Homo sapiens: one gene and its partner. The protein of the gene in region 2 interacts with the protein of the main gene of each other region in a pairwise test. Each region holds a gene or a part of one and is shown on either strand. Other genes may lie near its edges.

Region 1 (3,807 bases), on a different chromosome or scaffold from region 2:
GTGACTTGCTTGGGACGGGACAGGCTGAATCGTACTGGGCTAGGCTTGAGCTTGGCTGGCATGGCTGCATTGGACTGTGCTGGATGAGGCCGGGGTGTGCCTGGGGATTGTCAGGCAGGCCTGGGCGAGTAGGACTCATCTGGCCATCCTCTCCTGACCCTGGGGCTGAGCAGGAGGAAGAGCAAGCAGGCCCTGAGGGACTATAAGAAGGTTCAGATCCAGCTGGAGAATCTGGAGAGCAGTGTGCGGGACCGCTGCAAGAAGGAATTCACAGGTGTGGCTGAGAGAATGGGCCCCGCCCTCCAGAACTCTGCCCAAACCCACTCCCATCACACGGGATTGGTGCTTAACAGGTGCTTAACCTGGCCTCTTCTGCTTAACAGACCTCATGACTGAGATGACCGATCTCACCAGTGACCTCCTGGGCAGCGGCATCCCCTTCCTCGACTACAAGGTGTATGCGGAGAGGATCTTCTTCCCTGGGCACCGCGAGTCGCCCTTGCACCGGGACCTGGGTGTGCCTGAGAGCAGACGGCCCACTGTGGAGCAAGGGCTGGGGCAGCTCTCTAACCTGCTCAACAGCAAGCTCTTCCTCACCAAGGTACCCCCAGCTGCATCTTCCTGGCCTGCCCCTGGCCCTGCCCCTTCTCCAGGGCATGGTTTCTGAGCCCGCCCCTCTGTCCCCCTAAACCCCTTTTCCCATCCCTTCTCTTTGGCTGCAGTTCATCCACACGCTGGAGAGCCAGCGCACCTTTTCAGCTCGGGACCGTGCCTACGTGGCATCTCTGCTCACCGTGGCACTGCATGGGAAGCTTGAGTATTTCACTGACATCCTCCGCACTCTGCTCAGTGACCTGGTTGCCCAGTATGTGGCCAAGAACCCCAAGCTGATGCTGCGCAGGTCTGTGTGGCTGTTGGGGCTGGGTGGGCCCTGGACAGCTGGAGCTGGGGTGGGGCCTCGGGCTGGGGGGTCTGCAGGATAGAGAGGCCCGCAGCCCCACCTGCTGACCCTGGCACTCCCCTTTCCCATCATCTCAGGACAGAGACTGTGGTGGAGAAGCTGCTCACCAACTGGATGTCCATCTGTCTGTATACCTTCGTGAGGGTGAGGGGGCAGAGGTGGACAGGGCTCCTGTCCAGGGAGGGTCAGGCCCTCCAAACTTCTAAGCCCTCAGCCACCATGCAGCTCGGACACTTGTGCCAGAGCAGAGACTCCTGCTCAGCCTGTCCTCAGTCCCCTTAAGCCCATGTCCTGTCCCCTTCCCCAGTGTGCGTCATGTCCCATACACCTCTGCCACCTGCTGGGGGGCCCTAACTGCCTGTGCTCTCCTAGGACTCCGTAGGGGAGCCTCTGTACATGCTCTTTCGAGGGATTAAGCACCAAGTGGATAAGGGGCCAGTGGACAGTGTGACAGGCAAGGCCAAATACACCTTGAACGACAACCGCCTGCTCAGAGAGGATGTGGAGTACCGTCCCCTGGTGAGGGTGTGCAAGTGTGTGGCCTGCAGTCTGAGTGCGGTGAGGGCGAGGGTGGAGAGTGTGTGGGTGTGTGGGGTCTGGACACCAGCTTCTGATGTGGTACCTGGATGTAGAGCTGGGTTGACCTCTGGCTGGCTCCTGGAGAGAGCCCATCAGACTAGCTTAGCAGGATAGCAGTTTAGGGCAGACTTTGATGATAAGGCCTCTATGTGCCCCAGGCTAGGGATGGAACTAGGGTAGCCACAACCAGGGTTTGGGAGAAGCCAGCCCTACCTTAGACCATGGGCTTGAGCTGTGTCAGGGCCTGACCCTGTCTGCCTGGCCCTCCTACCAGGAATGCGGCCTTGCCCACCAAGCCAGCCTCACTCTGGCAGGCACTTCTCTCTGGGTTTGCTTTCCCCTTAGTTACGCACAAGGGTTCCTGTGGGAAACCCCCATTCAGGCCTGCTGAACCCCTCCCCTGTCGGATAGGTGGGAATATTTGCTCCCGATGGTGGGAATGCAGGCTTCCCGAAACTCCGTCAGCCTGACCCATTCAGCCAGGAACCTGGGGATCTGAGTGATGAGGGACTTGTGCTCACTCATTTTTTTCTGCCATTTACCCCATAGTGGTTTACAAGTGCACTGCGCTAGGTGCTGGGGTCACAATGGGGAGGAAGCTGCTGTCCCTGGGGAAGGCAGGCAGGTGAAGAGACGAGAATTAGGGATTGTGTGGTGCGTGGGGATTGGAGGCAGCAGTTTCTCATGAGTTGTCTCTGCCCTTGGCCTGTGTCTTGGTCATCCTGAGTGCACATGAACCCTGATGGCTCCTGTGTGTCCTGCACAGACCTTGAATGCACTATTGGCTGTGGGGCCTGGGGCAGGAGAGGCCCAGGGCGTGCCCGTGAAGGTCCTAGACTGTGACACCATCTCCCAGGCAAAGGAGAAGATGCTGGACCAGCTTTATAAAGGAGTGCCTCTCACCCAGCGGCCAGACCCTCGCACCCTTGATGTTGGTGAGGGCGTGGAGAGCCCCTGGGGACCTGAGCCACTGTTGGGCCTGGGCTGGCCCCGGACCAACTCTGCAGGGACAACTCATCACTCAGGGTGGGGAGGATGCTGGGAGGCAGGCAGAAGCTGGCTTTGGAACATCTTTCTTGGACAGCCTCTCATCTGGGGAGGGGGTCCCTGCTCTTGGTCTTTGGAGAGGTTGAGTAAGGCTGCCCCATGATGGAGGGGCTGGTGTCCCTGTGGAGGAGGAGATGGGCTCCACTATGGGAAGGGTATCTTCCAGCCCTGCACCCAGTTCTGCCTTGCCCTTGCAGAGTGGCGGTCTGGGGTGGCCGGGCACCTCATTCTTTCTGACGAGGATGTCACTTCTGAGGTCCAGGGTCTGTGGAGGCGCCTGAACACACTGCAGCATTACAAGGTAGGAGGAGTGGGAGCTGGAGGAGGGCATGGTGGGGTGGGACTGGTGGAGGGATCACCAGCTGTGCTCAGCAGGTCCCAGATGGAGCAACTGTGGCCCTCGTCCCCTGCCTCACCAAGCATGTGCTCCGGGAAAACCAGGATTATGTCCCTGGAGAGCGTGAGTACCGCTCCCATCACGGTCCTCTGCCCCTGCTGTGCCCAGCCCGGAGTCATGGGGAAGGTCCTCTGGGCCTCAGGGCAGGCTTGTGCCTATTTCCATTCGGCCCAGGAAATCCCTCAACCAGGTGCCCCCACCCCTGGGAGAGCTGGCAAGAAACAGGGGGCCTGGGGAGGTGGCACCTGGGGAGGGGTGACAGCTGTGGGCTCTTGGCACAGGGACCCCAATGCTGGAGGATGTAGATGAGGGGGGCATCCGGCCCTGGCACCTGGTGAAGCCAAGTGATGAGCCGGAGCCGCCCAGGCCTCGGAGGGGCAGCCTTCGGGGCGGGGAGCGTGAGCGCGCCAAGGCCATCCCTGAGATCTACCTGACCCGCCTGCTGTCCATGAAGGTGGGGTGGGGCTGCCAAGGTAGTGGGGCCTGGGCTGAGAGGGAGCATGGCCACTCGTGGGATTTGGGGGTGGTGTGGGGCTCGTGCAGGCACAGTGCCGGGGGGTGTCTGAGGCTGGGCTGCTGCTGAGGGCCCTTTGCTGACCACACCTCTCTGCTTCTTCCTTCCCACAGGGCACCCTGCAGAAGTTCGTGGATGACCTGTTCCAGGTGATTCTCAGCACCAGCCGCCCCGTGCCGCTCGCTGTGAAGTACTTCTTTGACCTGCTGGATGAGCAGGCCCAGCAGCATGGCATCTCCGACCAGGACACCATCCACATCTGGAAGACCAACAGGTGGGGTGGAGCTGGGTGGGCTCTAGGTGTGTGTG
Region 2 (3,807 bases):
GGCCTCTAGGTTGCCTTTTATTCCCTCTCTACTCTCTGTCTGCACCTTTCCTGCCAGCTGCCTTCCCAGCACCAACTTGTTGCCCCATCAGCTCCCCTGTGCATGGCATGCACATCCCCGTATGTGTCTGCATGTGCAGGTGTCCGTGGGCATGTGTGTGGTTGTGGATCTGCAAGCAGGGAGTGAGCTGTATGTGAGCTGGTATTTCTGTGGTGTGTCTTCTCTGGGAGGGGTTGCACTCATGAGTGGGTGTGTTAGTGTGTGTGCCTGAGGGAATCAACACACAAGTCTGCTAGCTACGTGTGTCTTCTTGTATGTCTTTATGTATCTGTGGGGATGAATCCCTGTATCTATTATCTCTGTGTGCACACACATGTAGAGAAGAATTCTTCTTGCAGTCACATTGCTATAGCTTTCAGAGCCAACTGATGCCTGGGTGCTGTACAGACCTAAAAAGCTAATGGGGGGATTGGGAAGTGGGATAGAGAAGGGAGGAAAGGGGCCCAAGATGGCAGCATTTCACAAAATAGTTTCAGGAAAATGAAGAAAGAATGGGGAAAGGGCCAGGCGTGGTGGCTCACGCCTGTAATCCCAGTAGTTTGGGAGGCTGAGGTGGGTGGATCTCTTGAGGTTGGGAGTTTGAGACCAGCCTGGCCAACATGGCGGAACCCCGTCTCTACTAAAAATACAAAAAGAAAAAAAATTAGCCTTGGTGGTGGGCGCCTGTAATGCCAGCTACTTGGGAGGCTGAGGCATGAGAATCACTTGAGCCTGAGAGGCGGAGGTTGCAGTGAGCCAAGATCGTGCCACTGCCCCCCAGCCTGGGTGATGGAGTGAGACTCTGTCTAAAAAAATAAATAAAAATAAAAATAAAAGGCCAGGCACAGTGGCTCATGCCTGTAATCCCAGCACTTTGGGAGGCCGAGGTGGGTGGATCACCTGAAGTCAGGAGTTCAAAACCAGCCAGGCCAACATGGTGAAACCCTGTCTCTAGTAAAAATACAAAATTAGGGCTGGGCGTGGTGGCTCACGCCTGTAATCCCAGCACTTTGGGAGGCTGAGGCAGGCGGATCATGAGGTCAGCAGTTTGAGACCAGCCTGGCCAACATGGTGAAATCCTGTCTCTACTAAAAATACAAAAAAAAAAAAAAAAAAAAAAAAAAAAGCCAGGCGTGGTGGCTCATGCCTGTAATCCCAGCTACTCAGGAGGCTGAGGCAGGAGAATCACTTGAACCCAGGAGGCAGAGGTTGCGGTGAGCGGAGATTGCGCCATTGTACTCCAGCCTGGGTGACAGAGCAAGACTCTGTCTCAAAAAAAAAAAAAAAGTTAGCCTGGCGTGGTGGTGCATTCCTGTAATCCCAGCTACTTGGGAGGCTGAGGCAGGAGAATCTCTTGAACCCAGGAGGCGGAAGTTGCAGTGAGCCAAGATCGCACCATTGCACTCCAGCCTGGGCAACAAGAGCGAAACTCCATCTCAAAAAAAAGAGAGAAAGAATGGGGAAGGAAGCCTTCCCTTGAGAACTGGTGTGGGAGAAGAGAGGAAGGAGGAAAACAACCCCCTGCTGCTCCTCAGCCCCCTGGGGGTCAAGAGAGGCCACTGAGGCCTCCTCCCTTCCAGATGCTCCAGGTTAGGGTCAGGACAGGGGTCAGGACAAGCTCTGGGACATTTTCCGTGACAGTGTTTCTAACACTTCTTGTGTGTCTCAAAGTCCCAATTTCTAGGTCTTTGTCTGAGTCTTCAGAGCTCAACTGCTGCATGTGTCCACCCCAAACCCAAGCCACACCGGCCATGTCCATATTCACCTACAAGTAAGGGGAGCCAAAGACTAAGGGTCTGAAAGAGGGGGCTCCTCTGACAATGACAAGAGGAAACAGACTCCCAAGTGGCCAGACCACTTCAATTCCAAACAGGAAGTGGTTAAAGTGCAGGCAAGGCAAGAAAGGGTGTTGTTAGGTGACAGAGCTTGGAGGCTGAAGTCCCAGACTAGACGCCTTCATTAAATCCATACTGTGCATCCTCCCTCTGCCCAGCCAGGACCTTATCAAAGCGGGCACCGAGCCTCAGCAGGAACACCGAAAGGATGGTAGAGAAGTCAGCCATGCTGTGCTAAGGCTCTGGGCCTTGTCAGTTTTGTGTAACAGAGTGACCCAAGAAGAGCTGTGAATGCGGCAGATCCCGTGGGGACTCTGGGCAAGAGCTTGCTGCAGAGGGTGGTGGAGAAGCAGCAGGGTGGGTCAGCGTGCATGGCCTGGAGGCCAAGAGATGACTTGGAGGGTAAGAAGAGTGATTCCCAGCCTGCAAGAGCTGGACCTGGGCCCAGAAGGGAAGAGCAACAGTGGATCTGTTCCACCCCGGCCTCTCCCTACAAAGCCAGTGGATCAGGGGAGGCCCCAGGCAGCACTGGCCTCAACTTCAAGGCCTGTAGGAGCAGTAGGAGACTCGGATCAGAGAGCAGATGATCAAACAGCAGCCTTGGGAGCTCTGAGCACTGGTCTTAGGAGGGGGAGGGGAGGAAACCGGAGCAAGGAAAAGCTCAAAGAAGGACCCTCCTGCATGTCAGAGGCTTTTGGGTGCTCTGGAGGTCGATAATTTCTGCCACGCAAGTTCCTCTATTTGTCCTCCAAATCTAGAATCCTGGAATGGTGTTTGGCATGTACGCTCAGGGGAAATACAATATCCCCAAACCCCTGGTCCCCGCTCCCTGCCCCATCCCAGCCCCATCCCATCTCCCCACAGGCTCATATCCAACTTCTTTTTTGGTCTCCCAGTATTTGCCACCTAGCTTGCCACCGCCCTGGGCAGTCGGAGACAGGCAGGAAGCAGCCAGAAGGTTGCGAGATATAACAGCTGGGAGGGGGCGCTCCCTCCTCTCCTCCCACTGCTGCTGGGTCTCTGATCTCTCACCATTCCTCAGGCAATTACAGAGCAAGCAGCTAGGGTTGTCAGCTCAGCAGGCCCTCTACCCCCCACCAGCACCACTAAGGGCAAAGGAGCGGGGAGGGGGGAGTGTTCCACAGATGGAGCCAAGGCCGGGTCTGCCAAGGGTGACAGACAGAGTGAGAAGAGGCAGGGGGGAGCAGGAGACAAAGACAGACGTAGGAAGACAGCGCTAACCACGATGGAGATGGTTAGGGGGTGGGGAAATTCCGAAACGGAGACCCAGGCAGCAGAGAAAGGGAGAGAAGAGGAAACCGGAGCACAAAGGGTGAGAGGCAGCTGCAGAGTGCGCCGCTGAGAAATGGCAGAAAGAGCGAGAAGAGTGAGGGGTGGGGGTGGGCGTGTGCACGTGCGCGTGCGCGCAGGCCGCCTGCACAGCGTCCTTGTCCCTGGGGGCTGTGCCAGGCAAGGGGCGGGGAGGAGGGAAGATGGGCCTGGGTCAGTGGAGGGGCTTCCCGGCGTGGACGTCACGCTGGCCTGGGAGCAGGGTAGAGAGACAGACAGAGGGTGGAGCAGCTGTGAGCTGGGGCCGGAGGGGCCTACAAAGCCCCACGCAACAGAGCATCAAGGCCCTGCCCACTTGTGGCACTGGGCAAGGGACGGCCGTGAGACAGGATGAATGGCACACTGCTGGCTGACCCATGCCATGCCAGGGAACAGGTGGGGGTCGGGGGATTCCTGCTGCGGGTAGGAACGGGGGGAGGGGGAAGCACCCAGAAAATCCCAGGGAAGCCTTCCAATATTGCTGCTGGCTGGGAGTAAGTGGTCACCTGGCTGGAGGAGACGCACATGTGTTAGGCCAAGAGTGAGCCTGCGTGACCATGCACTGAGTGGACAGTGGCCGCTGTGCTGGGGCAGTTGAAGATGG

What was found.
Region 1: the proteins of L1CAM (region 2) and PLXNB1 interact in a two-hybrid assay, tested with the Homo sapiens proteins (one study listed by BioGRID).

The regions. Positions count from the first base shown.
Region 1 is NC_000003.12:48,409,536-48,413,342, reverse strand, and holds part of PLXNB1 (plexin-B1 precursor), read left to right. Parts: exon of another isoform or gene 1-173; coding exon 174-274; intron 275-383; coding exon 384-601; intron 602-722; coding exon 723-901; intron 902-1,038; coding exon 1,039-1,105; intron 1,106-1,333; coding exon 1,334-1,480; intron 1,481-2,306; coding exon 2,307-2,475; intron 2,476-2,784; coding exon 2,785-2,888; intron 2,889-2,959; coding exon of another isoform or gene 2,960-2,962; coding exon 2,963-3,047; intron 3,048-3,265; coding exon 3,266-3,438; intron 3,439-3,611; coding exon 3,612-3,772; intron 3,773-3,807. UniProt on the Homo sapiens protein: Receptor for SEMA4D. Plays a role in GABAergic synapse development. Mediates SEMA4A- and SEMA4D-dependent inhibitory synapse development. Plays a role in RHOA activation and subsequent changes of the actin cytoskeleton.
Region 2 is NC_000023.11:153,876,151-153,879,957, forward strand, and holds part of L1CAM (neural cell adhesion molecule L1 isoform 1 precursor), read right to left. Parts: intron 1-3,807. UniProt on the Homo sapiens protein: Neural cell adhesion molecule involved in the dynamics of cell adhesion and in the generation of transmembrane signals at tyrosine kinase receptors.